4 linked regions of the Homo sapiens genome follow. The protein of the gene in region 2 purifies or fractionates together with the protein of the main gene of each other region. This does not show direct contact. Each region holds a gene or a part of one and is shown on either strand. Other genes may lie near its edges. The genes, in order: PM20D2, ANGPTL4, AASDHPPT and NMT2.

What was found.
Region 1: the proteins of ANGPTL4 (region 2) and PM20D2 purify together in Homo sapiens (affinity purification with mass spectrometry; 2 studies listed by BioGRID and IntAct, with this or other methods). This does not show direct contact.
Region 3: the proteins of ANGPTL4 (region 2) and AASDHPPT purify together in Homo sapiens (affinity purification with mass spectrometry; 2 studies listed by BioGRID and IntAct, with this or other methods). This does not show direct contact.
Region 4: the proteins of ANGPTL4 (region 2) and NMT2 purify together in Homo sapiens (affinity purification with mass spectrometry; 2 studies listed by BioGRID and IntAct, with this or other methods). This does not show direct contact.

Annotation. Positions count from the first base shown.
Region 1 is NC_000006.12:89,141,112-89,149,067, forward strand, and holds the start of PM20D2 (xaa-Arg dipeptidase), read left to right. Parts: upstream 1-4,943; 5' UTR 4,944-5,033; coding exon 5,034-5,498; exon of another isoform or gene 5,499-5,755; intron 5,756-7,413; exon of another isoform or gene 7,414-7,956. UniProt on the Homo sapiens protein: Catalyzes the peptide bond hydrolysis in dipeptides having basic amino acids lysine, ornithine or arginine at C-terminus. Postulated to function in a metabolite repair mechanism by eliminating alternate dipeptide by-products formed during carnosine synthesis.
Region 2 is NC_000019.10:8,359,376-8,367,161, forward strand, and holds the start of ANGPTL4 (angiopoietin-related protein 4 isoform a precursor), read left to right. Parts: upstream 1-4,779; 5' UTR 4,780-4,946; coding exon 4,947-5,264; intron 5,265-6,578; coding exon 6,579-6,689; intron 6,690-6,826; coding exon 6,827-6,944; intron 6,945-7,786. UniProt on the Homo sapiens protein: Mediates inactivation of the lipoprotein lipase LPL, and thereby plays a role in the regulation of triglyceride clearance from the blood serum and in lipid metabolism. May also play a role in regulating glucose homeostasis and insulin sensitivity.
Region 3 is NC_000011.10:106,073,514-106,080,674, reverse strand, and holds the start of AASDHPPT (L-aminoadipate-semialdehyde dehydrogenase-phosphopantetheinyl transferase), read right to left. Parts: upstream 3,014-7,161; 5' UTR 2,965-3,013; coding exon 2,782-2,964; intron 1,209-2,781; coding exon 983-1,208; intron 1-982. UniProt on the Homo sapiens protein: Catalyzes the post-translational modification of target proteins by phosphopantetheine.
Region 4 is NC_000010.11:15,165,675-15,173,087, forward strand, and holds the start of NMT2 (glycylpeptide N-tetradecanoyltransferase 2), read right to left. Parts: upstream 3,020-7,413; 5' UTR 2,939-3,019; coding exon 2,829-2,938; intron 1-2,828.

The sequences.
Region 1 (7,956 bases), on a different chromosome or scaffold from region 2:
TCTACCTCCTCTCCACGTGTCTAATGCACATCCATCAATTTGCCCCTCACTCTCTTATTTCCCCTATTTTGTTTCATGGCTTTACCATTCACTCAGCTGTTAACCCGAGAAACTTCAGTTCTCTTTCCCCCTTTCTCTGGAGCACCTTCTTCACCTAAACAGACATTCAGTGAGGAATTAAGTCTGGCCATTTCTGCCCACGGAATGTTTCTGGAATCCTTGGACTTTGCAAGAGCCTTTTATTTATTTTTAATTTTTTAAATTATTTTTTAAAGACAGAGTCTCACTCTGTCACCCAGGCTGGAGTGCAGTGACACAATCTTGGCTCACTGCAACCTCCACCTCCCAGGTTCAAGTGATTCTCCTGCCTTAGCCTCCTGAGTAGCTGGGATTACAGGCGCCCGCCCCAACACCCAGCTAATTGTTGTGTTTTTAGTAGAGATGAGGTTTCACCATGTTGGGCAGGCTGGTCTCAAACTCCTGACCTCAAGTGATTCGCCCATCTCGGCCTCCCAAAGTGCTGGGATTACAAGCGTGAGCCACCACGCCTGGCCTGCAAAAGCTTTTAACTTATCTCAGACCTAAGTCTGTTTCCAATTCATCTTCCAAATAGTCATCAATTATTCTTGTAGAACAAATTTCTGATCTTGTCTCTCTCCTGCTTAATAACATCCAATAGTTTAGCCATTGTCCAAGTTTTATTTTACTTTGAGACAAAAGTCTCACTCTGTTGCCCAGACTGGAGTGCAGTGGTGCAATCATGCTTACTGTAGCTTTGACCTCCCGGGCTCAAGCGATCCTCAAACCTCAGCCTCCAGAGGAGCTGGGACCACAAATGTGTGCCACCATGCTTGGCTTATTTACTATTTATTTTATTTTATTTTATTTTTTGTAGAGTCAGGGTCTCCCTATATTGTCCTGGCTGGTTTTGAACCCCTGGGCTCAAGCTATCCTCCCACCTCAGCCTCTTAAAGTGCTGGGATTACAGGCATGAGCCACCAAAACCAGCTAAAGTTGTAATTCCTTAGCAATGTGTTGTACACTTCCTCTATGTCCCTTCATCCCCAATCAAATTCACCTTTCTGCTCACCTACTCTCTTAGTTGTCTGCTTTCTGCCATATGACAACCAGCTCTTCCAACACCTTAGCCCAGATTGATTTTACATGTGCTATCTAGTGCGTGTTACGTGTTTGTTTCAGCTAGAGAAGTTTCTGGAGTTAACCAAGTTTGCATGTGTGTCTGGGGATGCTTAGGAGAATGTTGTAAATGACCAGTATACCAAAGTGACACTGTGATTTGCTTCTTCTCCATGCTGGCAGCAGCAGTCCTCAAATCGTGCAGTGGCCAGCATTTTGTTCAGGAGAAAATTGCTGTAGTTCCAAGTATTGTTAAACTGAAACGATGTAGGCTGGATTCACATGCACTTTTGGAAATATCATATATTTTGAAGGTATTATAAGTTTGATTTTTTTGGTGAAATATCTGCACTCTCTCCTTGGATTAAATCATTTTTGCACTTTTTATTCCTTTCCCCCACAATTATTATTATTATTATTATTTTTTGAGACGGAGTCTCGCTCTGTCACCCAGGCTGGAGTGCAGTGACGCGATCTCGGCTCACTGCAAGCTCCACCTCCCGGGTTCACGCCATTCTCCTGCCTCAGCCTCCCGAATAGCTGGGACTACAGGTGCGTGCCACCACGCCCGGCTAATTTTTTGTATTTTTTAGTAGAGACGGGGTTTCACCATGTTAGCCAGGATGGTCTCCATCTCCTGACCTCGTGAACCACCCACCTCGGCCTCCCAGAGTGCTGGGATTACAGGTGTGCGCCACCGCGCCCGGCCCCCCACAATTATTTTTGTTTGTTTGCTTTTCATTCCTGAAATCCTGCACTGAAGCTCTCTGGTACTTCTATTTACTTTTTCTCTACCTTTAATTTTCTTCATTTTATTTTTCATTCCATTCCTTTTTCTGTTTTCAAAAACTTTTTTTTCTCATTTAGCTCATGCTTTGCCATGAGCTCATGCTTTGCCATGTTGGGGATTTTATTTTATTATTTCTATCTTAATTCAAAGAATATAAACCATACAAAAGCCTGCTGCCTTTTCAAAAGGAGTTCTGAATCTGAAGCCCAAAATAATACCCAGTATAGTTGTACAATTTGGCTGTATTTTAGTTGCTTTTCCAGGGTAAAGGAAATTTTTGATCTACTCTTTCCACCACAGCACTCATTTGTCATGAATGTCCTGTTCTCAAAGTTATTGAGTCAGTTGTGATGACAGCTGGTTTTCTAAGCAGCCAGGAAAGAAGAGGAATCTTTATATATTTTTTCCCCTTTTTTCTCATCAGGAGCCAAGAAAGAACATTTATATACTTTAAAACCAGTCCTCAAGAGAGAACTATCTGCACTCCTCTCACCCCCCCAAAAAGGTTATACATCTTAATACTAAATTCTGGATATTGTATTGTTTCCTCAGATCCAGCACCAGCTAAAGGAAGGGAGCTTGTATACATTTTTTTTTGTTTCTAATAAAAACATACAGGTTCCTTACCAGTAGCACATAGATAGGGTAGACAGTTGTATGAATATTATGGGTACAAATGAAAGTAATAGTAAGAATTTATGAGCTGACCAGATTCTAGAAAGCCACATGTCCAACTCCATCAGCTTCCAGAAGCAATTCTTCCTGCCCCCAGCTCCACATAAAGGACTGAGAAGTCTAGGAAGAAGCATAACAATGTCTATTGGTAGTCAGTGTCGTTTAATGGTTAATTGCTGCCATTATTCAGTTAGTTTATTAGATTCAAGAAGAATAATCAGCCAACAAATATTTATTAACACAGAGGAAATGCTGACCATAAGATGTTAGGTGCTGGGGAATGCAGTGGGAAAACAAAAGAGTTTAAAGCCTGGAGGGGAAGATAAACGGTCAGCAAGTTATCACAGTTTATCAAATAAATGAATTCAAGGGTGCAAAATACCATGAGCAAGAAATACAAGGTGTCAACAGTAGAAACTGAATACATACGTGCCTGTGGGCATGTATACCCACCCACCCACCCACATATATACACAAGGAACAGAGCTTGAAATGAATCTGTCTTTCCTCTACCTCAAGTGGCAGCTTTGTTAATTCCTGCAAAGCAATATAAATAGCAGCTTCTATATGAAATTATATGCATCCCTTTTCTGTTGCTGTTTATTGATGCCTGAGGAGGGCAAACATGGGTTCTACTGATGTCAGCAGGCAGAGTTGCTGCAGTAAAATTTATTCAAAATGAGTGTTGTGGGTTCTGATTTGAATAGATAAACTGGAGATGCATTTATGAATTTGCATGTCTGTTTACACAAGCAATAGACCATGGTGGCTGAAAGTCAGCCACTGGAGGCTGACTCTGGCTTCTGTTCTACAGTGGGTCCACTACTTACTAGCTCTATAATCTTGGACATACATCTGTAAAATGAAGATAAATAACCACATTAACCACCTCATAGTTTGCTGTGAGGATTAAATGAGTTAACAAATGCTAAGCCCTTGGAACAGTGCCTAGCACAGAGTAATTGCTCTACAAATGTCACCTATTGCTTTTGCTCTCCAATCCCCCCTTCTCCCCTTTTTTTAGCCAACTAACTGAGCAGGATAATATTGGATCTCGTGGATACAGGGTAATTTTCTTCAGCAGAATACCAGAGAAAGATTTATTATCGCCAAGGGGGCCCAGGAATTTAATAACACATTTGTTGTTTTTAGAGCTGAGTTTTTGTTGGAGTGTTAACTGAGAAAGAAAGTTTTCAGACGTGAATGGAATGTGACATTTACTCTGGTATTATTAGCATATAGAGTAGTAAAAACAGTAGTTGATAGTCTTCGTGCATGTTAGCTTCCCTTAGACTTATTTTCAAAATATTCATTTGGTTTATCACATTAATATATTGTGTCCCATTTAACATAGTTGAGACAAATTAAGGAAAGATGATAGGGTATGAAGAGCTGATAGAAGCTTTTAATATGTGGAAAACCTCAGAATATAAACATCTACAGTGTTATTAATAGGCATACCGTCAACAACAGTTTTTCAGACTTTGTGGTTCACTCTGGAGAAAAACAAGAGCATGACATCTTGAATTTCTTCACTGGGTAATTAAAAAACTCAGTTATAATGTAACACCAGCTGCACATATCATGTTAGTGGAGTTCAGCATCAATTAAAATTATAAACGAAACCTGTCATATGTTCCCTTTCAAAGCTGTTCAAGACAACTGTCCAAATCAACAAAACAGTATGAATATTTACTACCATAAATCTTTTAACTCTTTGGTTTTAACTCATTTCAAATTTTTAGTTCTACTCTATTCAAATAAATTATTATATAATAGCTAATACATACCAAGAGCTTACTGCATAATCTAGCTGCTGTTCCAGACATTAGTAACCAATGAGAAAACTGTAGAGAGTAGCTGCAGCTTTTAGTAATACAATGTCAAGGAGAAGAAAGTGGGGGCAGTACCGAAACTTACGTACAGTACCGTCGTTAGTACAGCATTGACACTGACGGCCTCCTTCAGGAAATACAAACCTTGTGAGGTTTTAATTACTAATGCTACAGAGTGGCGTTTTTCCGAGGACTGTGTTCCACTTGGTCTGTCTCTGATGGCTATTAACTAATAACCGTTCTCATTCTGCTGCTGTGGGAAATAAGCAACAACGGAAAAGTAATCGATAATCTTAGAGCATAACTCAAAGGCCAGAGCAGCCAAGGAGGTGGAAGAGTCCCGAGCCCTGCCTTCTCCACAGCACCCCCAAAACCCCACGGCGGGGCAGAGCGCCTGGTAGGGTACGAGCGGCCGCCAGCGTTTCCCGCGCGGCGCCGGGGGCGGCCCCGGGACTGGGGGTGGTGCCCTGGGAGCTGTGTGGCCGCGTGCGCGCTCCGCCGGGGTCCTGGAGGCCTCTGGGCGCGTGCGCGGGCGGTCGCTACCTGCGGCCGAGCCAGGGAGCGAGAGGGCGCAGAGGGCAGCGGGCTTGGGCAGCATGAGGCCCGGAGGGGAGCGGCCCGTGGAAGGGGGCGCGTGCAATGGCCGCTCCGAGCTGGAGCTACTGAAGCTGCGCTCGGCGGAGTGCATCGACGAGGCGGCCGAGCGGCTGGGGGCCCTGAGCCGCGCGATCTGGAGCCAGCCCGAGCTGGCCTACGAGGAGCACCATGCCCACCGCGTGCTGACGCACTTCTTCGAGCGGGAGCCGCCCGCGGCCTCCTGGGCAGTGCAGCCGCACTACCAGCTGCCCACGGCCTTCCGCGCCGAGTGGGAGCCGCCGGAGGCCCGGGCACCGAGCGCCACGCCACGCCCGCTGCACCTGGGCTTCCTCTGCGAGTACGACGCGCTGCCCGGCATCGGCCACGCCTGCGGCCACAACCTCATCGCTGAGGTCGGGGCGGCGGCCGCGCTGGGCGTGAGGGGGGCCTTAGAGGGCCTCCCCAGGCCGCCTCCGCCCGTGAAGGTGAGGTGGGGCCCGGGTGCGGGACCCTATCCGACTGCCCGGGTCGGGGGCGACCCGGGAAGGGCGGGACTCTCGTGCGTCCCGCGCGCCTCGGTGCCCTCCCGCCCGGGGCAGGTGTGTGTGGGACCGCGCTAAACCTGCGGTCCTCGCCTCGGCGCAGGAGCAGAGCTGAACCCCCAGTCAAAGTCAGTTCGCGTTGCCGACCTGGCGACATCTTGCAGATTATTGTTTCCTCCTCTCTAGTTATAAACAGCTCTGCTGAGTTGTTCCCTTAGGAAAGAACTTACACCCAAGCCTGGTGTTTGTTACGGGTTATTTTTGGTAACTGAGAGAGGCAACAGCAATTTGCTGACAAGGTTGTGCCATCAATCTCAGGAGGAAATAACTTCTTGTAGGTAATCCTACGGCCCCTTTTTATTCGTCTCCAAATAAATCTTTTGTTTGTGGCAGTCCTAGAAAATGTGATTCAAGTCATTGGTATTTGGATAGGAATTTTCAGTCGCTAGAACCACCAGACCCCTAGAAGTATACAAATAAAGGGGAAGTGAATGAGCATTATACATAGATGAGTTCATCCTTAAGTCTTAATTTTTTTGTTTTATGATTTTAAGAAATACCTCGACTCTTTAAACAGGGAAATGTCGTTTATGTTTGTCGTAGGGCAAGTTTAATCCTGTTTTACTCTGCTTTTCCAGATGGTATATTCTACACTATGAGCTAAGATTCAATCGTCATTCAGTTAAGGGGAAAACAAATGTTTTATTTTCATACTCTTTAGTTCATTTCCCCCAGTGTCAGTAACCTTCCTCTTTTATCCTAACACTACATCTTTTGTGGCTTTTTCACTTTAGCTGCCTTCTTTTTTCTGTCTCTGGAGGCTCGTTTTTGCATTTGTTAGGTTTTTGTTTGGGTTGGGGGAAGCATGCTTTGCCATGTCACAAACACTGGAGAGATTTCGCTTCAACCACGTTTTTAAAGGTTCTGAGTAGTCAGCGAGAGACATATCGTATTTAATGAGTTAAGGGTCAAGAATGAAGAGCGGTGGGCAGATCAGTTGAGGTCTGGAGTTCGAGACCCGCCTGGCCAACATGGTGAAACCTCTGTCTCTACTAAAATATATTAAAAAAAAAAAAATTAGCTGGGCGTGGTGGCTCACGCCTGTAATCCCAGCTACTCGGGAGGCTGAGGCAGGAGAATCGCTTGAACCCAGGAGGCAGAGGTTGCAGTGAGCCGACATCGCGCCACTGCACTCCATCCTGGGCAACAGAGCGAGGCCTCCTCTTAAAAAAAAAAAGAGCGGCGGCTTCATGTCAGAGTTTGAGCACTGTAGAACCGCCAAAAAAAAGCTAAACTTTGAGAAATGTACACTCTTTTTTTTTTTTTTTTTTTTTTGAGACAGTCTCATTCTGTCGCCCAGGCCGAGTGCAGTGGTCCTATCTCGGCTCACTACAACCTCCGCCTCCCGGGTTCAGGCGATCCTCGTGCTTCAGCCTCCTGAGCTGGGATTACAGGTGTGTGCCACCACGCCCAGCTAATTTTTGCATTTTTTAGTAGAGACAGGATTTCGCCATGTTGGCCTGGCTGGTATCGAACTCCGGATCTCGGGTGATTCGCCCACCTCGGCCTCCCACAGTGCTAGGATTACAGGCATGAGTCACCGCTCCCGGCCCACTCTTCTAACTTCAAATGGTTGTTCTCAATTTTAGCAAGGTTAAGTTATTAATTATCTGAAAATGGAATTTAAGTTGATTTCCTTTGCAAGCCAAGACTTTTCCAGCTTGTTTCATTGTGTTCTTATACATGATCTTGAAAATATATTAGTTGTTTATTTTGATTTTTAAAATTGTTTGAAGCAGTTAAGCTTAAATATCAAAGTAAAATGTTTATTCTGTAAAGTTCTCTTTTGTTTAATTAGGTGTTTGGTGACCAATAAATCTGCCTGGTTGAACTGGTGGAATCGAATTAGTAAGTTTGTGTAATAGTTGGCTGTTTCTAACTGTGGCATTAAGACTTGTTTAATGTTCTTCATAAAGGATTAATGAGTTCAGACTTTTAAAATAGGTAGCCCAGTAAGGAATCAGAGTTTAGGCCAGAAGATCAGGACATCTAATCCTAATTCTGCCTGAAGACTTGCTCTGTGACCTGGGGCAAGACACTTCACTCAATTCCTCAAAAACACCCCCTGTAAAATGATGATAGAGATCACCCACCTACCTCACAGGGTTGTTGTGAGGATAAGTAGTAAGTTAACAGAAAGTTTCTGACTCGTAAAGTACTTAAGAATAATTATATACATACATACACTGAAAGGCTTAGTCGAGAGGAACCTTTTTGAAACAAATCCTAACAAATTTTGAGGGACTAAACTTGTAGTATTTTTTTTTATCTTTGCCATTAGTTGACTTGTAAAATTGGGAAAAGCTTTTTATAGTGTCTTTAGTACATACTTTGCACCAAG
Region 2 (7,786 bases):
CCACCTCAGCCTCCCAAAGTGCTAGGATTACAGGTGTGAGCCACCATGCCGGGCCCCAGCTAATTTTTTTTTTTTTTTGAGACAGAGTCTCGCCCTGTTGCCCAGGCTGGAGTGCAGTGGCGCAATCTCTGCTTACTGCACCCTCTGCCTCCCGGGTTCCAGCGATTCTCCTGCCCCAGCCTCCCGAGTAACTGGGATTACAGGCGCGCGCCTCCACGCCTGGCTAATTTTTACATTTTTAGTAGAGACCGGGTTTCACCATGTTGGTCAGGCTGGTCTCGAACTTCTGACCTCACGATCTGCCCACCTTGGACTCCCAAAGTGCTGGTATTACAGGCATGAGCCACCGTGCCCAGCCTGGCCCCAGCTAATTTTTTAAATTTTTTGTACAGACAGGGTCTTGCCATGTTACCCAATCTTGAACTCCTGGGCTCAAGCAGTCCTCCCACCTTGGCCTCCCAAAGTACTGGGATTACAAGCATGAGCCACCTTGCCTAGCTTAATGGCATTTACATTTGTAGTGAAATACACATAACAGGCTGGGCGCAGTGGCTCATACCTGTAATCCCAGCACTTTGGGAGGCCGAGGTAGGCGGATCACCTGAGGTCAGGAGTTAGAGACCAGCCTGGACATGGCGAAACCCCGTCTCTACTAAAATACAAAAATTAGCCAGGCGTGGTGGTGGGCACCTGTAATCCCAGCTACTCGGGAGGCTGAGGCAGGAGAATCATTTGAACCCAGGAGGTGGAAGTTGCAGTGAGCAGAGATTGCACCACTGCACTCCAGCCTTGGCGACAGAGCAAGACTCTGTCTCAAAAAAAAGAAAAAAAAAAGAAAAGAAAAGAAAAAAAAGAAAAAGAAAAAAAGAAATATACATAATATAAAATTGGTCATTTTAACAATTTTTAACTATGTTGGCCAAAGTAGCCCACGCGTTGGGATTGGAGACCCGGTCTTGCCCACCGTGATCGCCCCAGTACAGTGCCTGGCATATAGTAGGTGCTCCAGGAACAATTGATCAGGATGACTTTGTCTTTGCTGGGTAAGAGGCCACATTCTAAAGGTCAGTTTTTGGCCAGGCACAGTGACTCACACCTGTCATCCCAGCACTTTGGGAGGCCGAGGCGAGTGAATCCCTTGAGCTCAGGAGTTCAAGACCAGCCTGGGCAACACGGCAAAAATCCTGTCTCTACAAAATCTACAGAAATTAGGCAGGTCTGGTGGCACATGCCTATAGTCCCAGCTGCTTGGGAGGCTGAGGTGGGAGGATCACTTGAGCCTGGGAGTTTGAGGTTGCGGTGAGCTGTGATTGTGACACTGCACTCCAGCCTGGGTGAGTGAGACCCATCTCAGAAAAAAAAAAAAAAATACATAAAACAGGGCTGGGCGTGGTGGCTCATGCCTGTAATCCTAGCACTTTGGGAGGCTGAGGTGGTGGATAGCCTAAGCTTAGGAGTTTGAGACCAGCCTGGGCAACATGGCGAAACCCCACCCCCTCTACTAGAATACAAAAAATTAGCGGGCGTGGTGGTGGGCACCTGTAGTCCCAGCTACTCAGGAGGCTGAGGCAGGAGAATGGCGGGAACCTGGGAGGTGGAGCTTGCAGTGAGCCGAGATGAGGCCACTGCACTCCAGCCTGGGCAACAGAGCAAGACTCTGTCTCAAAAAAAAAAAAAAAAAAAAGGCTAGGCCAGGCACAGTGGCTCACACCTGTAATCCCAGCACGTTGGGAGGCCGAGACAGGTGGATCACCTGAGGTCAGGAATTTGAGACCAGCAGAGCCAACATAGTGAAACCCCGTTTGCACTAAAAATACAAAAAATTAGTCAGGTGTGGTGGTGCACACCTGTAATCCCCGCTACTCGGGAGGCTGAGGCTGGAGAATCGCTTGAACCTGGGAGGCAGAGGTTGCAGTGAGCGGAGATTGCGCCGTTGCACTCCAGCCTGGGCGACAAGAGGGAAACTCCATCTCAAAAAAATAAATAAATAAAATAAAAAATAGGCTGGGCGCGGTGGCTCATGCCTGTAATCCCAGCACTTTGGGAGGCCGAAGCGGGCGGATCACGAGGTCAGGAGATCGAGACCATCCTGGCTAACATGGTGAAACCCTGTCTCTATTAAAAATACAAAAAATTAGCTGGGCATGGTGGCAGGTGCCTGTAGTCCCAGCTACTCGGGAGGCTGAGGCAGGAGAATGGCACTAACCCGGGAGGTGGAGCTTGCAGTGAGCCGAGATTGCGCCACTGCACTCCAGCGTGGGCGACAGAGCGAGACTCCTTCTCAAAAAATAAATAAATAAATAAATAAATAAATAAATAAATAAAAAATAAAGAGCAGTTTTTAGAATAAAATCTAGAGCCAACTTGAGGCGACAGTATAGACTCTTTTGTAGATTGCTCACAGCAGGTGCCCTTAAGACCCTGGGTCTGTGATGTGTTTTGTGCTGTGGGACACATGGCTCCAAAGAAGTCCCTGAAAATCAGATCATGAAAAGGTCATCAGGTTGGGGAAGTAATTGATCAGTTCTCTCAGTTTAAGAAGGTGGGGAAGAGGAGGAGCTTGCATTCTGGGATAGCCTGGGATAGCTGTGTCCCTACTCAGAGAGAGGCTGGGGGCTTGGGGGTGGACAGGCCAGACGGTGACCATCTGAACCTACTCCTCACTGGGGTTTTCCTCCCTCCCTTTCCTGTCCACTGCTGCTGGGAGGGATTTGCTGTCCTGGCATCTGGCCCAGCTGACGGGGCCAAGTGTATGAGTGGCAGCCTGCACGTCAGCCCTTGGGTGTGCAGTTTCAGATTCCAGAGAATGAGCTGGCTTGGAGCCCTGCTGAGTCAATGCCCTTCTCCTTGCCAGTGCTCTGAGCCAACCTGCCCCGAGTTCTTCCTGGCAGGCTGGTTTTCTGTGCCAGCCTCCCCTTCCTGACAGGGTATAGGGGAATGGGTAGGGAAGAGGCAGAGGAGATCGGTGCAAGTTTGAATGAACACTTAGCCCTGTGGAATGAATGTGGTCCAGCCCTTTAGCCTCACTCAGTACTTCCTTTGTCCCAACTCTATCCCTACCCCAGGCTCAGAATGTTGGGGTATCTCCACCTGCCTGAGAACTTCAAACATACAGGGGCTGGGCTTAGAGGGCAGCAGCACCTTCGTTCAGTGCATGAGTGAATGAATGAATGAGGGAGAGAAAGAGGAAGGTCTTCCATGTCTGAAACTTTTTTTTTTTTTTTTGACACACAGTCTCACTCTGTCACCCAGGCTGGAGTGCTGTGGTGCAATCTCAGCTCACTGCAACCTCCGTCTCCTGAGTTCAAGCGATTCTCCTGACACAGTCTCCCGAGTAGCTGTAAGCACGTGCCACCACACCCGGCTAATTTTTTATTTTTAGTAGAGACGAGGTTTCACCATGTTGGCCAGGCTGATCTCGAACCCCTGACCTCAGGTGATCCGCCCCCCCCCCCCTCCCACCACCCGGCCTCCCAAAGTGCTGGGATTACAGGCGTGAGCCACCGCGCCTGGCCACAGACTTTTATTTTATTTCTTTTTTAGAGACAGGATCTCACTCTGTTGCCCAGGCTGGAGTGCAGTGGCACCATTGTGGCTCACTGCAGCCTCTACCTCCTGGGCTCAAGTGAGCCTCCCACCTCAGGCTCCCAAGTAGCTGCGACCACAGTCATGGGCGACCGCCCTGGTTCCTCCCTTCCTTGTGTCTCCTCTTTCTGTTCTCTAAGTTCCTGCTTTATTATAGGCAAAGCTCAGGACATTAAAGACCCTGGCGGTAGAGGGTAGGCTATGGGGGTGAGGCCCTGATCCAAGTCCTGCCGCTAAGGCACTCATAATTTCGGGCTCAGGGGAGAAATGGAAGTCAAAGAATCTCATAAACACAGCTGCGATGACGAACCCTTTCACGGGAAGGAACATGCGAGCCCAGAAAAGTCTCTCCTGGTCTTGGGATGGAGGTCACACGAAGCCTCCGCAAGGCAAGGACTTTTGGTGAGTTCCGGGCTCCGCTGAACTCAGCTCTTTTTCTTTTCCTTCCTTTCTTTCCTTCTTCCTTTCTTTCCCTCCTTCCTTCCTTCCTCTTTCTCTCTTTCCTTTCTCTCTCTCTTTTCTCTCTCTCTCTCCTTCTTCCCTCCCTCCCTACCTCTCTCTCTTTTCTTTTTCCGTCCTTCCTTCCTTCTTTCCTTCTTTCTCTCTCTTTTCTTTCTTTTCTTTTCTTTTCTCTTCTTTCATTTTGAGACGTACTCTGGCTCTGTCGCCCAGGCTGGAGCGCAATGGCGCCATCTCGGCGCACTGCAACCTCCACCTCCCGGGTTCAAGCGATTCTACTGCCTCAGCCTCCCGAGTAGCTGGGACTACAGGCGCGCACTACCAAGCCCGGCTAATTTTTTTTTGTATTTTTAGTAGAGACTGGGTTTCACGATGTTGGCCGGGCTGGTCTGGAAGTCTTGACCTCAAGCGTGCGCCCTCTCCGCCACTGGGTAAGGCGGGGGCGGAATAGGGGGCTTGCAATTTCACACTAGAGGCGGGCACCGTGGGGGAAAGAAGAGTCACGTCTCCCACGGTTCGTAGAGGAAGGCCTGCCTGAGCCTGGAGCGGGGGCGGGAGAGCCACAGTTTGGCATCCCCAGGGCATCCCCCAGCCCGCAGACTACCAGGCCTCCAGAGGACAGGACCCCACCCCCGGCCACAGGCCCTGCCCCCAGCACTCCCCGCACCCCGCCTCCAAGACTCCTCCGCCCACTCCGCACCCAACTTATAAAAACCGTCCTCGGGCGCGGCGGGGAGAAGCCGAGCTGAGCGGATCCTCACACGACTGTGATCCGATTCTTTCCAGCGGCTTCTGCAACCAAGCGGGTCTTACCCCCGGTCCTCCGCGTCTCCAGTCCTCGCACCTGGAACCCCAACGTCCCCGAGAGTCCCCGAATCCCCGCTCCCAGGCTACCTAAGAGGATGAGCGGTGCTCCGACGGCCGGGGCAGCCCTGATGCTCTGCGCCGCCACCGCCGTGCTACTGAGCGCTCAGGGCGGACCCGTGCAGTCCAAGTCGCCGCGCTTTGCGTCCTGGGACGAGATGAATGTCCTGGCGCACGGACTCCTGCAGCTCGGCCAGGGGCTGCGCGAACACGCGGAGCGCACCCGCAGTCAGCTGAGCGCGCTGGAGCGGCGCCTGAGCGCGTGCGGGTCCGCCTGTCAGGGAACCGAGGGGTCCACCGACCTCCCGTTAGCCCCTGAGAGCCGGGTGGACCCTGAGGTCCTTCACAGCCTGCAGGTACGTGTCCCCAGGGCTGGTTCTCCGCGCCCCTAGTGGCTCTCCTGGCTTGGAAGGGTATGGACAGGAGTGGGGCGTGGGGGCGGGGTGCGCAACTGTGGCTCCCTGGGCTTCCCTGCGTCAAGGGATGGGCTCCCCCCTTAGGAAGCCGAGGAGGGAGGTTCGCTCAAGGCCAGGAATTCAAGACCACCTAAAGCAAAATAGCGAGACCCCCGTCTCTTCTACACACACACACACACACACACAAAATAAATAAAATAAAATAAAATAAATATAAAATTAAAAAACGACCGGGCGCAGTGGCTCACGGAGCCTCCACCTGCTGTCGAGACTAGCCTGGCCAACATGGAGAAACCTCGTCTCTACTAAAAATACAAAAAATTAGCCTGGCATGGTGTGCATGCCTGTAATCCCAGCTACTTGGGAGGCTGAGGCAGGAGAATCTCTTGAACCCGGGAGGCAGAGGTTGCAGTGAGCCGAGATCGCAGCACTGCACTCCAGCCTGGGCAACAGAGTGAGACTCCTCAAAAAAATAATAGCGATAAAATAAAAATAAAGCCAGGTGCGGTGACTCACGCTTGTAGTCCCAGCACTTTGGGAGGGCGAGGCCAGTGGATCACCTGAGGTCAGGAGTTCAAGACCAGCCTGACCAACACAGTGAAACCCCGTCTCTACTAAAAATACAAAAATTAGCTGGGTGTGGTGGTGGGCGCCTGTAATCCCAGCTACTGGGGAGGCTGAGGCAGGAGAACCTCTTGAACCCGGGAGGCGGAGGTTGCAGTGAGCCGGGATCATGCCATTGCACTCCAGCCTGGGCGACAGAGCTCGACTCCATCTCAAAATAATAATAATAATAAATAAAATAAAATACAAATACAAAAATTAGCCAGGTGTGGTGGCAGCTACTTGGGAGGCTGAGACACAAGAATCACTTGAGTCTGGGAGGCAGAGGTTGCAGTGAGCCAAGATTGCGCCACTGCACTCCAACCTGGGTGACAGAGCGAGACTCTGTCTGAAAAAATAAAAAATAAGCCAGGCATAGAGCTGCATGACTGTAGTCCCAGCTACACAGGAGGCTGAAAACAGGAGGATCGCCTGACCCCAGGAGTTGGAGGCTGCAGTGAGCTGTGACAGCACCACTGCACTCCAGCCTGGGCGAGAGAACGAGACCCCGTCATTGGGAAAAAAAAGAAAAAAGAAAGACTCCCTTGCCTGGCCTCAGCGGATGGAGATTTGGAAGGATGGATGAGTGGATGAATTAAGAGGTTGGGGTAGGCAAGCTGGGTCCTCACCAAGGTTTTCACCCCTCCCCAGACACAACTCAAGGCTCAGAACAGCAGGATCCAGCAACTCTTCCACAAGGTGGCCCAGCAGCAGCGGCACCTGGAGAAGCAGCACCTGCGAATTCAGCATCTGCAAAGCCAGGTAACCCTAGGATCAAGGGAGAAAAGGTCCCTCTGATAGCTGGACCCCAGGTTGAGAGGGAGGTGGTGAGAACTGGACGTGTGGCTGGGGACGTGGGGCCAGGCAGGACCTGACACCCTCCTCCCGTCCCATCCTAGTTTGGCCTCCTGGACCACAAGCACCTAGACCATGAGGTGGCCAAGCCTGCCCGAAGAAAGAGGCTGCCCGAGATGGCCCAGCCAGTTGACCCGGCTCACAATGTCAGCCGCCTGCACCGTGAGTGTCTGCCCCTCGATGCTCTCCGGTGGCCACCCCTACCCCGCCACTTGCCATTGCTGGTCCTCTCCTTGTCAGGTCCACCTTAAGGAGAAGATGTCCTGGCCTGGAGTCCCTGAGGGCTCACCAGTCTCTGGGTCAAAGCTGATGGGAGCACCTCCTTCCTCAGCCCTGACCTGGCCCAGCCAGGCCACCCAACCCTTCTCCTCTGCAAGCCAGTGGGCTGTCCCTGAAGCCCTGCTGATCACTGATTGGAACAGAGGTGGAGAAAGAGGTCTTGAGGGACTTGAGCTGCAGGGGTGCTGGAGAAGGTAGAAATGGGGTTCGGGGTGCCATCCTGAAGGTTAGAACCTTCTAGGGGAGGGTGTCATGGAGGAGGGGGTGCCAGGTAGTAGTGTTTGTAGATTTGGGCCCTCCACAATGTCTTGGGGTATGTGGGAATTAGGGCTGGGAACCCCCAGCTCCCAGACCAGAAACACTCTTGTATCTTACAAATCCAATGCTCCAGGTCCCTGACCCCTCTTCCTCCTTCCTCTCTTGTTCTCCTCCTCCCTCCCCGCCCCCGCCGGCCCCCTCCCCACCGCAGAAAGTGGGCTTTTGCTGCCACCACAAGTTGTAGGTGCTTTATTCCCAAATCTCCGTTCATCTCGAACCACAGCATGTCCACGTGTGTCCGATGCAGACTCGCGGTTCTCTAAGTTCACGGCCCCACACGGTTTCTCTGTGGTCCTCATCCTTCCCTGCATCTGTGGCTGTCCACAGCCAACTGGGTGAAAGTTTGGATCCCCCTCTCACACCCTAGGGTCAGTGGCAGGCTTCCAGCACTGTAGACCTGAGGGTTC
Region 3 (7,161 bases), on a different chromosome or scaffold from region 2:
AAAAATAGCAGTATATGCATCATAGGGTAGTTGAGAGAATTAAATCACAGAATATGTCTAAAGCACTATGTAAAATGCCATGACACGTGGTTAAGTGTTCATTAAATGTTAGTGATGATGACAAATATACAGCAGTTAAGAGAACCTGTATTTAGTATGTATTAAATTGCCTGGGTACATTCAACTTCACCACAAATGTTAGTGGTCCTTAAAGCCACCACTAACAAATTTCTAAGGCAATATATAAGCAACTTAAATATTTTAATAATGCTTGCTCCTCATTTTTACTTACATAAATGGGCTAAAAAGAGATGTATTTAGATGCAGAACAAAGAGTCGCCCGTTGGTATCCACTGGGGACTGGTTCCAGGACCCTCCTCAGATACCAAAATCTGCGCATGCGGCCCTATGGAACCTGCATATATGAAGTCAGCCCTCCACATCCTCAGGTTTCATATCCTGCAAATACTGAATCTTGATACACGTTTGATTGTGGATGCAGAATCTATGGGGACAGAGGGCCAACTACTGAAAAAAATTCACATGAGTAGACCCATGCAGTTCAAACTTGTGTTGTTCATGTGTCAACTGTATACGTTATCTCTACATAAGGACTACAATGTACTTTACTATTCAGATTCTTTTTTAAAAAACAAACAATTAACTGAAAAATTGTGGTTAATGTTTAAGTGAAATAAATTGAAGTATAATTCAAAAAAAATTTCACTTAATATTTCACTTTACCTCTAGGCAAAGTTATGGATCCCCAGTAACGGATAATCTATTATTTATGTGTAAGTCTGTAAATATTCATGGAAATATACCCTTTTCAGATTTATGCTCTCCATTACCTTTGTGTACTAAGCACATTTTCCCTAAACTGAAATATCTCTAATACATCTCCTGGCCTGAGATTACTCAATAGCAATAGAACTGAGGCATCGAGACACTTAACTGCCATACTAGAAAAATGCAACGTTACCTGGAAAACTAGTCTTCATTATATCAATTCCAACTTGCAGCTCAGGTTCAGCAGCAAGCACTGCATAGTCTCCTTGATGAGAGATGTTAAAGTTGAAATTCGGGTAAGGATTCGATGAGTCCTTTGCAAGAACTGGTTTTCCTTTTGCAGTTCTTTGCAAACGAATATGATTCCAAGGGATATTCAATTTCTCTGCAACTAATTTCCTTATCATCAGACGACCAGCCTGTTAAGTACATAAAACATTTGGTATGTACTGATGTCTACTAAAGATACAAGCACACTGTATGCAATAGTACTTTTTTTTGGTTTCTAAAATTTTCATTTTTAAAACTTTTCAAAATACTTAAGTATTAAACACACGTTAATTAAGACTTAAGCAATGCTTAAGTAGATAAAAAGTTAAAGCCCGCCTTAGCAATTCCCTCTCCTTTGCTAGTGACCAAAGTTAACAGCTGGCATCCTGTCAGTCTTTTCTGTATTTAAATATATGTGCATTTACATGTTTTTGCTAACTCTACATATAAACACAAACATGAGATTATACTTATGCAGTATTCTACCACATATAAGCTTTAAATTTATAAGTATTGGGAAGTATTTTATGTCTGTACACACACGTCTGGTCCATGCAGTTTTAACTGTAGCATATTTCATAATATTATTTCCCCTTTATTGGACATTTTAGGCTGGCTCTAGACTTGCTGTCAAAAACAACTCTGCAGTGAGCAACCCTACTGTACCTACATCTGTGCATATGTATTTCTAGATCCCATATATTGATCACCCAGCTTCAACAATTAGCAAGGCATGACCTATCTTGTTCTGCTCTCTCCCACCTCCAATTATTATTTTTTAAATAATTACTAAAAACACACACACAAAAAAACAAGAATATAAGATGACAAAGTATATATTTTTAAAAATATCTTTCAGGTTTTTTTCTTCTTCAATTCTAACACTGACTTTTAAAAACTGCAGGCTTTTAAATGTAGCTTATTTTACAATTCCTTACAAATGAGTAAAAAATTTTCACCAATGTGCCTTAAAAATTATCAACTAGTCTACATTTCAAACAGAAAGTGTTTCAATATGGGACATTTTTAAGAAAGGACTGTCTTTTAAATGATGGTAATTCACGGTTGTTTCAAATTGCACCATATTGTACAGATTACTTGTTTTGAAATCCAGTTTTCCATTTGTTGCTTCAAAATACATAGCTAAAATAAATAAATCTACGTAAAATACTGTTTCCCATGGCATCTAGTGAGGAAGGTATCCTCTCTGGCTTCAATTTCATTGGCTTCAATCCCGGGGAGCGCAGGGCTACAAACTAAATCATACTGTCAATAATTTCTAGGGCCTACCACGTGCAGGGAGTCCTTGGAGAATGATGGGATATTTAACAGGCAGAATAAGCATAGGCTATGAACGCACACAAACAAAAAAAAATAACATTTAAAGATAAAGACATAAAAACATTCATTACAGAAAAACCCAATTTTGTCGGCCTTCCCTACACTTATTTCATGGTTTAGGAGGGTCTCCATTTGAAATAACAAGGGGAAAGAGATAATGTTTACAGCCATCGCGGCCTCCAAGGCGGTTACAAAGGCCGTGGAAACCAGGCCGTGCGTCGCCCACAACTCCGCAGCGCCGGCTGCTGTCGCCCGGGCCGGCCACAGGCTCCACAGCGAGAGGGTCGCGGCCAGCGCGGGAGTGTCGGGTCTCCACAGCCCGGCCCGCCTCCCCCAAGATCTGCTTCCTAGGCTCTAAATACCAAAAAAGACCTGTAGTACCATGGCTGCCTTAGCGTCCCGGGCAAAGACGAACTGGCCAATGCGCTCCTTCTCCTCGGGCTGAATCGATCGCACTGCCAGCAGCCATTCGGCTCGGCTCGGCAGCCAAGTGCCGCAGGAAAAGGCCCAGCGCACGCCCTCCATGGATGGCACCAAGCAGAACCGTTTGGCAGGGAAAACCATACACTGAAAGCGGACCTCGCCGCTATCTCGGGCCTGATGGCGCGGACGCAAACGTGGCCCCACCCCCTTCTTCCCGGCGTCCGTGCGCAGGGGACGGGCCGTCGCTACGCAGACTGGCCCACCGACAGCCCTCCCAGCCCGCCCCCGACTCAGCCACCTCCTCTCGGAGAAAGCAGCTGGGGGCGGAGACGGAGATCAGCCCTGCGCTTTGCGGCATTGTATGACGTCAAGTAGGCGAGGCTTCGGAGGCGAGCGAAGGGCGGGACCAAGGCCAAGAGCCCGACAGTTACGCCACTCACACTTGCGGAAGAGTTAACGGGACAGCGGTGCAGGCCAATCGCAACCAGTCCTCTGGAGGCAGGGAGACTGGGGTGGAGACTTCGGAGACTGCAGTTGCAGGTGGGTGAGCTCCGGGGTCTGAGGGAGGAGTGGGATGGTAGCCCTTATTCTCAGGGTCTGAGTTGGCCCCTGTGACCCACAGAGAAGAGAATGTCCTTGGCTTCAGCTGCTTCGTGTACGGGGCACGAGAGGTTTCCATCTCTAGGAGGGGGTCTGCAGTGGTGCCCCCTGCAGTTGTGCAACGCATCAGCCCTGAGTTCCTTCTTTCCCTGCCCCCATCCGCATCAGCCTAAGACCCACCCTCACACAGTACGCTCCCGACCCTTAGCAGCAGCCTACCTGAAACCCTCCCTCCGAAGGCCGAGCAGAGGCACTATCCCCAGTGCGCAACACTGACCCCGCCTGGATCCGAGGCTGCCAGCGAGCAGCTGAGCTAATGCTGGCTGTTTATTTGGGGCGATGAAGCGACCCAGGTGCTGTTTTGCTATTGCCAAGCCTGGGCTAGAGCACTAGCGAGAAAACAGGATTCCATTGTTGAGGTATCAGTGTTTCCATCATGACAGAGGTCCTTGCTCTAACAGCAACAGAAACAAGTAAATAACTTTGCTCAGTTATTTTCTCAGACTTTGCGAAGGGTCATATTGATGTATGTCTGTTTCCTTAGTTGTTCCGTGTAGGCTGTTGTTGACTCTCGTATGAAAGCCCACGCGATCCAAGTGCCCTGCAGGTTTTGGTCCAGGGAAAAGTTGGTCTCTGCAGATGACTGTAAATGACTACCTGGAGGTCGATTAAAGTGCGGTACTGCGGGATTCAGCCGATTTCCTTCTTCCTCTGACTGCCCGGAAATATCAGCCAAAGGCCAGCGGTAGTAATTAACACAATTACCTGCCTATGATTTCTGTCCTATTTAAGATGGGTTCTATTATGTTTTTATCTATACTTGTCTTCATTAACTTTTCGTGATATCATAAGCCCCCCGAATCCCTCGAAAGTAGATGGGATTCTGAGCACACACACACACAAATTCAGATCCCCAAAGGACAGTAAAACGAATTATTGGCTTAATATATCATCTTAGCTAACCAAAAGCCTGTGTCAGCTGCCATGTTGAAAATCTGCTTACCAGCTGCAGGGAGCTTACAATCTGGTAAGGCAAATAAATCATACGCATAAAAAGTACAATAAGAGACAGTGTAAAGATACGTAAGTGATACTAATACCCATATCAGCAATGATCATAACTCACTTCTCCATTTTTAACTAAGAATCATATAACCTTTCCTTCTTGTCGTTTTAAACTGATTTTTATAACTTTGATACATTACGTTTCTGTTTCCAAAACACTTCTGTGTACGTTATTGCACATGTTCTGTGCACTAGTTATTACTGATGGAGACAATGAGCTCAGAAAGAGAATTTGTTTAAATTCAGGAATTCATATCCCATTATTTTACCATCGAGCAAGATCTCTGTGTATTAGATCTATGGAGCCTAATACACAGACAGTAACGTAGGGATTATTTGTACTTGGTCTAGAATCTAGAATATTCTCCCCTTCTCCCATTATCACATTCCTTGTTTCCTCTGTATCATTCAGGCCCAAATCTCATACCAAACAGAATGTCTCTGTTCACCTAGTCTAAAATAGCTTACTCTCTCCACTTCCAAACCTCAGCCCCAAACCTATCACCCTGTGAACATATTTTATAGGTTTGTTTAATCCCCTTCCCTGTGTGGTTTTACAAATTCTCCAGAGCTTAGCTTAAACCTTCTCTTAGGGCCTACTTCAGAGTACCTTTTTCCAAAACAGTATTGTTTATGTAATTCATTTGGCAGTTATTCTAGTATTGCCTTATGACGTCTCTCCTATTGTCCTGAATTATTTTCATGTGTGTTATCTTGCAAAATAGAATGTACAGTACTTGAGAGGGAATGTCATGTATACCTTTTACAAATAGTATACATGAGTAAATGTTATTAATGACTCCACAATAGATTTATTACTGTCAAGGGTAACACTGCTTTTTATATTCTATCTGCCTTTACTTCCCTCACTTTTATTAAGGAAATATAAATATGCAGTTCATAACTTGCTTAACTATATTAAATGAACCCAACAATTTTATTAAAATATTTTTTACTGCATTGGTCAGGGGAAGAAGAGGACTAAAGTAATAGGGGCTCACTCAGTCTGTAATGATCATCTTGCTTGGTGCTGATCTGTGGCTTCTTAGCAGGATTCTGAGGGACTCGTATTCTATTTCCAGCTCTACCACCAATTGTCTGTGTGACATTGGTCACACAGGATCCTATGTGTGACATAACCTCTTCCATGTATTAATTTCAATGGAAAGGCATCGGATGAGATCATCTCTAAGTCTAGGTGTTTTTTAGATATACTCACTAACTTTTTATTGGGTCACAAACTTTATTCTACCTCAAACCCTTCTTTTTTCCCCCAAGACTTATTTGAATAGCTCCATAATTCTACCAGTTTCTCAAGGAAGAAACCATGATGCTGCTCTTCTTTGACTCCCTATATCCAATCCATCTCCAAGTGTTTTTGGCTCTATTTCTAAAATACAGAAAAATCCATTTATTTCTCTTTATTCCCACTGTTAACAATCTAGTATAACCCACCATCATTTTTCATCTGAAATACTAATCAGTTTTCTAGCCTGCCTGAGAAAGGGGAGCACTCTCTTCCAATGTCTTCTATGCCATAAGCACAACTTGCTTTCAGAGCTAAATCTAGAAATCTATGCCCTTAATTCTTATGTTACATTGCCCTCTAATTAGACTGAGAAGGAGAGGCCAGCAAGGTAGGAAACCTGAAGAATGTTGTGGCACAGAAACTAAAAGACGAGTGTTTCAAGGACTAGTTAACAGTGTGAATTATCCTAAGAGGTGAAATAAGATGAGGAGAGAGAAGTGAGAATTTACCTTCAAGATGGTAGTGTGGTGACATTGACAAGGGCAGTTTTAATGGAGTAAAAGAAAGGAATTTTATTGTAGTGGGTTGAGACGATAACTGGAGGTGATGCTACCACAGAGTGTCCTTTAAAGAAGTTTTTCTGGATTTAGGAAGTAGAAAAATGGAATGGTAGCTAGAGGGAATAAAAGGTCAAAGGACAGATTTTTGTTTGATGTTTGTTTAAAGATGGAAGATACTAGAATTTGCATGCTAATGGAAAATGTCTAGTAGGGTGGGAGAAGCTCTTAATGTATGAGAAGGAAGGGGTATGTGTGTGGGGGGGGGTGTTCGGCATTCTAAAGTAGACTCCAGGGTAGAGGACCTTGTCTATGTTGTTTTTCGCTGTATTTCTAGTATCTAGAATAGTACCTGCCACAATATTTGTTACTCCATAAACTGTCTAATATTTGTTGAATAAATGAATGACTTGGACCCTACTTCTCTTACCTCCTTTCAATTCATTCTTGACATATTAGCTAGAAAAATATTTTTTAAAAAAATGATGTCATGTCACTGTCCAATTTAAAGTAATCAGTCGTTCCTATTTCACTTAGAATAAAATCCCAGCTCCTGTGACCCATAGCATCCTGACTGAGGTAGCAACTGCCTTCTGCAGCCCTATCTCCTAACCCTCTTCCTTTCATTAACTACTCCAGCCACACTGGCCGCCTTTAATTTCCTAAAACTGAAGGACTCCTTTACCCCTGTAGGGCTTTATATGTGATTTCTTCCACCAACCCCTTACCTTCTTATCATTCAATTCTCAAATGACACTTCAGAAAGGCTTTCCCTAATATTGTAGTGGCTGAAAGCAAGGGCTCTTGAGCCAAACTGAGTTCACATACCAACTCCCTGCTTACTTGCTATATGATCTTAGCCAAATT
Region 4 (7,413 bases), on a different chromosome or scaffold from region 2:
CGAGACCAGCCTGGCAAACATGGTGAAACCCCATCTCTACTAAAAATACAAAAATTAGCTGGGTGTGGTGCCACGCGCCTGTAATCCCAGCTACTTAGGAGGCTGAGACAGGAGAATTGCTTGAATCCAGGAGGCGGAGGTTGCAGTGAGCCGAGATTGCACCACCGCACTCCAGCCTGGGTGACAGAGAAAGACTGTCTCAAAAAAAAAAAAAAAAGGTACATTTTCCATGAAAAACAAGATATAAAGACAGTGAGACTCAAGTATTTTATAATACTTACGCCATTGCTTTTAATTAAACATAAAACATCTGATATTTCATTCATGGACTCTTAGCATTATCTATAAAACGAAATACCCTTTTTAGTCCATGAAGAAAATTCCATGAAAATAAAAGAACAGCATATGCAGTTTTACATATTTAAATACTTACATTTTGGTGCAAAACAAGACTCTAATTGGGTATTTTCCTTTTATTTGAGGCTTTAGTTTCAACTTAATATGTCTAAAAGGACTAGTAAATACATTATACTGAGTGGTGGGGTAAATGAATTCTTTCAGGCCACAAGGGCACTATTCAGTAAATTACCTCTCTGCACTGGCCGCTGCCTGGTGGCCTCAAATTGACAAACTGCCTTTAAGAGGTGAAACATGTTCTTACTGATTCATCCAAAGGCTCATTATTTGTTATTTATTTAAACTGATGGGAATGAAGAGGCCGAGTATAGAAAAAGAGTCTTTCAAATTTTAACATTTACAAACTTGAGCTACTTAAAGAAAACCTAGGTTTCTACTGCGATATCATCAGTACATGAGCCAAATAAAACACATTTACTCCCCCAAATTTGGCACACATTGTCTAAATTCAAATCCAAACAGGCAATCCAAGGAGAGCAGTCATTTGGAGTTTTCCTAATCTCCTTACATTTAAATAGAGTACAATACATCCATTATGTTAATCTTTTCCCACTAGAAGCTATTAACATGGTATCTGCTCTTGGTGAAAACATTTCAGTCCATGGGGCATCTCTAAATTTTGATTAACCTTTCTAATATATAAAATGTGCTGATATACAAAACTGAAAACTTCCGAAGGCAGCACAGATGCCTCTGGGTGCTACTCTGGGAACTTTAGCTTCTTGAAAGGTGTCGGGGGACAGGCTCAGATCAATGCGCACACAGATGAGGAATTCTTTGTACCAGGGGCATTCTCAACAGTGTAAGCAAAGAAGTCCTAATCAAGCCCCCAACCTAGAATATCAATCAAAGGAGGAACAATAAACAGAAATTACAGCAGAGAAGATAAAAGTCCAGGGTCTCTCCAGAAAGAAAACACAGGTACTGAAGCTAATCCATCAGCTTGCATCTGCACCTGGGCCCATTTCTGGCAATAGAACTACCGTTTCAAAAACATATTTGTATTTAGCTATCTATCACAAACACGTTTCTATCCCTGCATAAACAGGGCTCAGGTTCAGATTCCTATGCAATTTCCTTTCCTCTCTTTAAAAAAAAAAATATTCTAGACTCGAACATTCGATACTTGCAGCCGCCACTGAAGTATTCACGGCAAAGATAAAAACAACTTGCAAATGGGAGATGCACATAGTCAGCTTTTCTTTTTCTTCATTTGTTAATATTTTATAATGAATTAGAGGTCAGTCAAAAGTCCCTTTCTATAATAAATCTTAAAGTAGACAAGTAGAATGCAAATGATTTACACTTTCAATGATCAATCATTTCAAGAATCTCTCTACGAACTGAGTAAACCATCTGTGACTCAGGCCTCCCTATCATGTTTTTTAAGCTGACCCACTTCTCCATCACTCACCATGGTTCGAAAAATCTCACTTCTAAGGGTGTAGCAAGAACCGCTCTGTGCCAGCGCATAGTTTGAATCCAATAGGGTAAAAGGGTAATGTAAACAGCACTTTAAAAGGACACCAGTTTTTATTTAAAATGACCCACTGCCTCTAAAAAGAGAGCATCAACACCGGCCTTCACCTGAAGCAATCCTTTTCTCCAACAGAAGAGCAAATCAAGTCTGCAGGGTTCGGGGGCAAAGGGAAAGGATTAAGAAATCCGATCAAGTGTGAAAATGCGTGGTGCATCGAGTTTTGGAGATCAAATACCAGCTTTGCAAACAGGATACGGCCAGGTCAGCGGGAGCCCGGTTCAGGGGATCGGCCCTGCTCTGAAGAGCTCTAGGGACAGGCGAGGCGGTGCAAAGCCCAGTATCCCCAGCAGGGGCCGGGCCCGGGACCCCCTCGGCGCCAGAACTTTGCGCAGTTCGCCGCCTGCGGCCCCGACACCATCGGGGCACCTCCACGCCGCTCCACCCACGTCTTTGCCCATTCTTTTCGGGTGGCGGCTGCGGAGAGGGAGTCTGAAGGGACTTAACAAGGATGGCAGGGAGCAGAGGAGGGCGACCTCCTACCCCAGGCTGCGGCCGCCACAAAGGGAAGGGCGTAGCGCCTCTCCTCGGCGCCCACCGGAGCCACCCGCGGGCGAGGGCAACAGGCGCCTCCTGGGCCAGGCCGCCGGCGGGGATGGGCGAGGCTGGCCGGGGGCGCGCGGCAAGTGACAGTAGCGTCTCCCCGCCCGGGCCCCAGCCTCCCCGCCCACCCCGGGCCTCGCCTCCCCGCGCACTGCACTCTCCCGCGAGCCGCGCGCCCCGGACCTCACCATGGGCTCCGCGCCACGGAGAAGCCATCGCGGGGCGGAGCGGCCGAAGAACCCCCAGTCCTGGGAGCCACCCCCGAACGGGAGACCGTGGCGCGCGCGGTCCCCGCCCTGTCGCGCCCGGTGCGCCAGCGCGCCGCCCCTACCCTTTGGCGTGCTCCGTCTCCTCCTCATTGTCCCCGTCTATCCCGCACGTGTCCTGGTCGTCCAGTTCCAGGCTCTGCTGGCTGGCCGCAGACTCGCTGTCCTCCGCCATCGCGGCGGCGCTGGCTGGGGAGGCGGTGCTCGGGGCCGGGCCGGAGCGGCCGCAGCTCCCTCTAGTGCCTCCCGCCGTACTGCTTGGAGTCGGAGCCCGGGCGCTACGCCCCGCCCCGCCCCGCCCGCGCCCCGTCCCGCCCTCCGTCCCGCCCCCTCCCCGCCCTCCGTCCCGCCCCGCCCTCCATCCCCGCCCCTCACCGTCCGCGCCCAGCCCGCCGGCCCCGCCCTGCCCGCCGGCCCCGCCCTGCCCCACGGGCTTGAACCCCGCCCACCTCTTCGTCCCTCCCCACCAAGCCCCGCCTCTCCCCGTCCCGCCGGCTTCAATCCAGCTCTCTAACCCCGCCCGCCTCTGAGACCCCTCCCCTCCAGCCCCGCCTTTCCCCACCCTGCCGGCTTCAAACCCGCCCTCTAACCCCGCCCACCGCCGCAGCCCCTCCCAGATGGCCCCGCCCCTCCCCGCCCCGCCAGCTCCAACCCTGCTCACCCTGGCCAGCCCTGCACAGGGCCGAGTCCTGTACATCCAGGCCTGCGCGGTGCCTCTGCCTGGGGCTCGGCTCTCAAAGCTGCAAACGTGCAGACTTGACATCCTGAGTGGCGGCATTTTTGGAACACAGGCCATGCGATTTTACTTCTGGACGAATTAGGGAGCGCTCCCAGCCCGTGCAGGGGTTTTTCCCACTCAGGAGTAGGCACTCAGGGATGGGGCTTTCCAGAAACTCTTCCCGCCCCTCCACATACATGTTAACAATTCCATTTCGCATCTATCTATCCATCTAATACATTATAAAATCAAATTCAAAGTCAAAAACAGTATTTCCAGCCCTCCACCGCCCTGTCCCAACCAGGCTTGCAGCACTAAAACTCTTGACAGAAATTTTTGAGCTACCCCTGCTTTCCCTGGACACTACTACGGACGGCTCAGACCAGAACAGACATCTTGAGGGACTTGGGGACGTGTCCACGATGCTGGGGGATTGGACAGTTTCAGGTAGGCTACCCTGGCTTTCCCAAAGTCAAGGTCATGACCTAGATTTCCAAGCAAACGTGCACGGCCTTCTGTGCTGAAATTGTCCGCTGTCTCTCTCAGAAGAGGGAAGGGAGGCATTCTGTAGTACTGCCAAATAGAAGACCGGTGAAGTTCAGCCTCTCTTATTTGCTACTGCATTCTGTACAGAGCAGTCCTGTCCTTTGCTTTGCTGAGATGATCTTGTTCAAATGTGCTGCTAGGCCACCGGAAGTCTCCGCAGTGGTTTTGCAAAGATAATCATCAGAACCCGCTCAGTGAGGAAAATGAGACTTTAAAGAGCCACCTGAATTTTTTGGTGTGGGTCCTTTTTTTGCAGAAGATACTAGGAGCATTTTATGGCTTTTTTCCCCAAGGGAGACTATGTTTTTAAAACGCAATGAGCTAGAAGTATCAAAAGATGAAAACTGCAGAGCGATTTCAAAGCCCGTCAGCTGTTTGGCATTGAGACAACTAAAATTCTGTAAGAAGGGCAAATGGGGTCAAAACACAAAAGGAAATACAATATTGCCTTTAACAACGGCAACTATTTCTGAGGCAAAATGTCACATGTCACCTCTGTGAAACTTTAGGATAGAAGCAAATACAGATGAGTGAGGTTCCTGCAGCTCATCTCTGTGAACATGGATTGTTGGAGAACCCGCAGCCCGCTCGGGTAACCAACAGGAAACTGGCCAGGAGCAAGCCTATCAATCAAATCATCCACTCTAACCTGCCAGAAGGGTTCTCTAAAAGAGTTTTTAAAACTTAAGGCAAAGGAAACTCAGCAGTCATATATTTATCTGAATTTTCAAGAAGTTTTGACTAAGAACTGCTCTAAAAAAGAATAAGAAAACAAATAATCCTGGAAAAATAAAATGAGGGCATCAAAAACCAGTGAAACACTAGAAAACAATGACAAACAGGGAACATCTGTTCCCCAGAATGGAAACAAGTTGGTACAGTACTGGATTGAAGTACATCGGTACAGTACTGGATTGAAGTATTATATAATACAAATGTTTTACAGCATTAATCTTTGGAAGGAAGGAAAAGTTTACAGATGACCCTGGGGCTTCCTAAATCCTACTGTCCCGTATAGAAACACTATGTTTCTAAATATTTTTACTTATTTCCCTGGCTTAATTTCAGAATTTGGAGAATTGGAACCAAGTGGCAACTTCCAGCATCTTAGATCTAAAGTTTATTTGGTGGATGGGAGCACTGTGAAATGGCTGCCAGTGTATTATTTTTTCAAGTTTCAGTTATTTATTAATCAGTGTAATCTCCAATAGATTACATCAACATGATTTCATTCATTTAGAGGAGAACTATTTCCTGGTGAAGTGGAAAATTGTGCGGACGGATTCTGGAAGACCTTCAGTCTAAAGCAGCTTTATAGTGAAACATTTCATTTAGAAATCTGGACCTTCTTTCTTCAGTTTGCTGTGATCCACATTAATTGAGTAGAACTTGAATTGATCATCGGGACCCAGTTTGTTCCAGGGATCTGGGTGATTCTTTCAGTCCCAACTAACATCTGGATTGAAAAATGCCAGACGCAAGAGATACAGTCCTGCTCCAGTACCTCTAGCTCCAATAAATACTAAGAGGGAGATCAAGTTTGGATGCTTCTTGGCCTGACCGATGATCTGGTGGAGCGTGTCTGCGGCAGAGGCCTCCAATTGGAAAGGAGAGAACCAGCCTAGCCACCAGGCCCTGGGCTAAGTAGTATCTTGCCAGTGTATTTTAAAAGGCCTTTGGGAATTTTCTATTCTGCCTGGCCCACTCCTACTACAGATGTAAGATTATAGTTGTACAATTGGTCTTGTTTCATTTAAATTGTTTTAACTTCTTTTTTAATTTTGGAAAAATACATACAACATAAAACGTACTATCCTAACCATTTTTTTTTTTTTGAGACGGAGCTTCACTCTTGTTGCCCAGGCTGGAGTGCAATGGCACAATCTCAGCTCACTGCAACCTCCGCCTCCTGGGTTCAAGCGATTCTCCTGTCTCAGCCCCCCAAGTAGCTGGGATTACAGGCGCCCGCCACCATGCTGGGCTAATTTTTGTATTTTTAGTAGAGACGGGGTTTTGCCATATTGGCCAGGCTGGTCTTAAACTCCTGACCTCAAGTGATTCGCCCGCCTCAGCCTCCCAAAGTGCTGGGATTACAGGCGTGAGCCACTGCGCCCGGCCTGGAGTGCTTTATTATGCAGTAATAACTAACCAACTTACAGAAAAACAAAGACCAAAAGAAATCCTTAGGCCGGGCGCGGTGGCTCACGCCTGTAATCCCAGCACTTTGGGAGGCCGAGGCGGGCGCATAAGGAGGTCAGGAGATTGAGACCATCCTGGCTAACACGGTGAAACCCTGTCTCTACTAAAAACACAAAAAATTAGCCGGGTGTGGTGGCGGGTGCCTGTAGTCCCAGCTACTCAGGAGGCTGAGGCAGAATGGCGTGAACTCAGGAGGTGGAGCTTGCAGTGAGCCGAGATGGCGCCACTGCACCCCAGCCTGGGTGACAGAGCAAGACTCTGTCTCAAAAAAAAAAAAAAAAAAGAAAAAAAGAAAAAAAATCTTAAAGACACTCCTTTTTTTACTATCACGATCACTATCTGTATATCTGGGTATGTCTGAAAAAGACTTATGCCAAACCATTAGTTTGCACTTTCCATTCTGGGTTCACAAAAGCAAAGCCCATTACTTTTGCAATACACTAGCTATTCTTGCTAGCTGGTTTGCTTTAGAGTCTGGCTGGATTTTATTTTATTTTTTAAGTGACTCCGTTTCTTTTTAATTTTTGAGGAACCCGGTAACTACCCTGCACCATTTGCAACTGTGCGTTGGAGAAGCTTTTCTCGTGGTCACTGTGAGGGTAATTTGCACCTCCTATTGCTTGGTATTCTGCTAAAAGGTTTTCATACTTGTTCAAACCAGCAGGTTGGTGCCACAGTGAGTATTGCAGATCAGCTGCATTTCAGAACTTCACAGTTGGTGAGTCTGTGTCTTGTCCCTGTAGGACAAGTTGGGGCTTGCGGGTGATGCCAAGGAAAATTCTAGAGGAAGCCGAACAATGCCACAGCAGATGGAAGTATGTGTTCATTTAGGAGGTGGAAGGTGCCTCCATTCTATAAATAGGGTCACCTTGAAACTGCACTGCTTGCCAAACTCCTTAAATGTGTTCAGGTTTTCCCCACGAGTATATCACTGGATAGTTTATTGCCAAACTTCATTAGTTATTTTATTGATAAGGATGATATATTACAGAAGTACACTGTCTCATCAGACATTTTTACTCGAAGTAGAAATACTAAAGGAGGCAAAAGGATCTGTTCTAGCCTGTCCACAATTAGAGCTTCTGGCCCTTTCAGGAAGAAAGGATGGAGGAGAAAGTAACTGATGAAGAAAGTGAGGGCAGTAGGTAAAGAAGAGGAAAGAGATAGAGGAAAATCAGGAAAGGGAG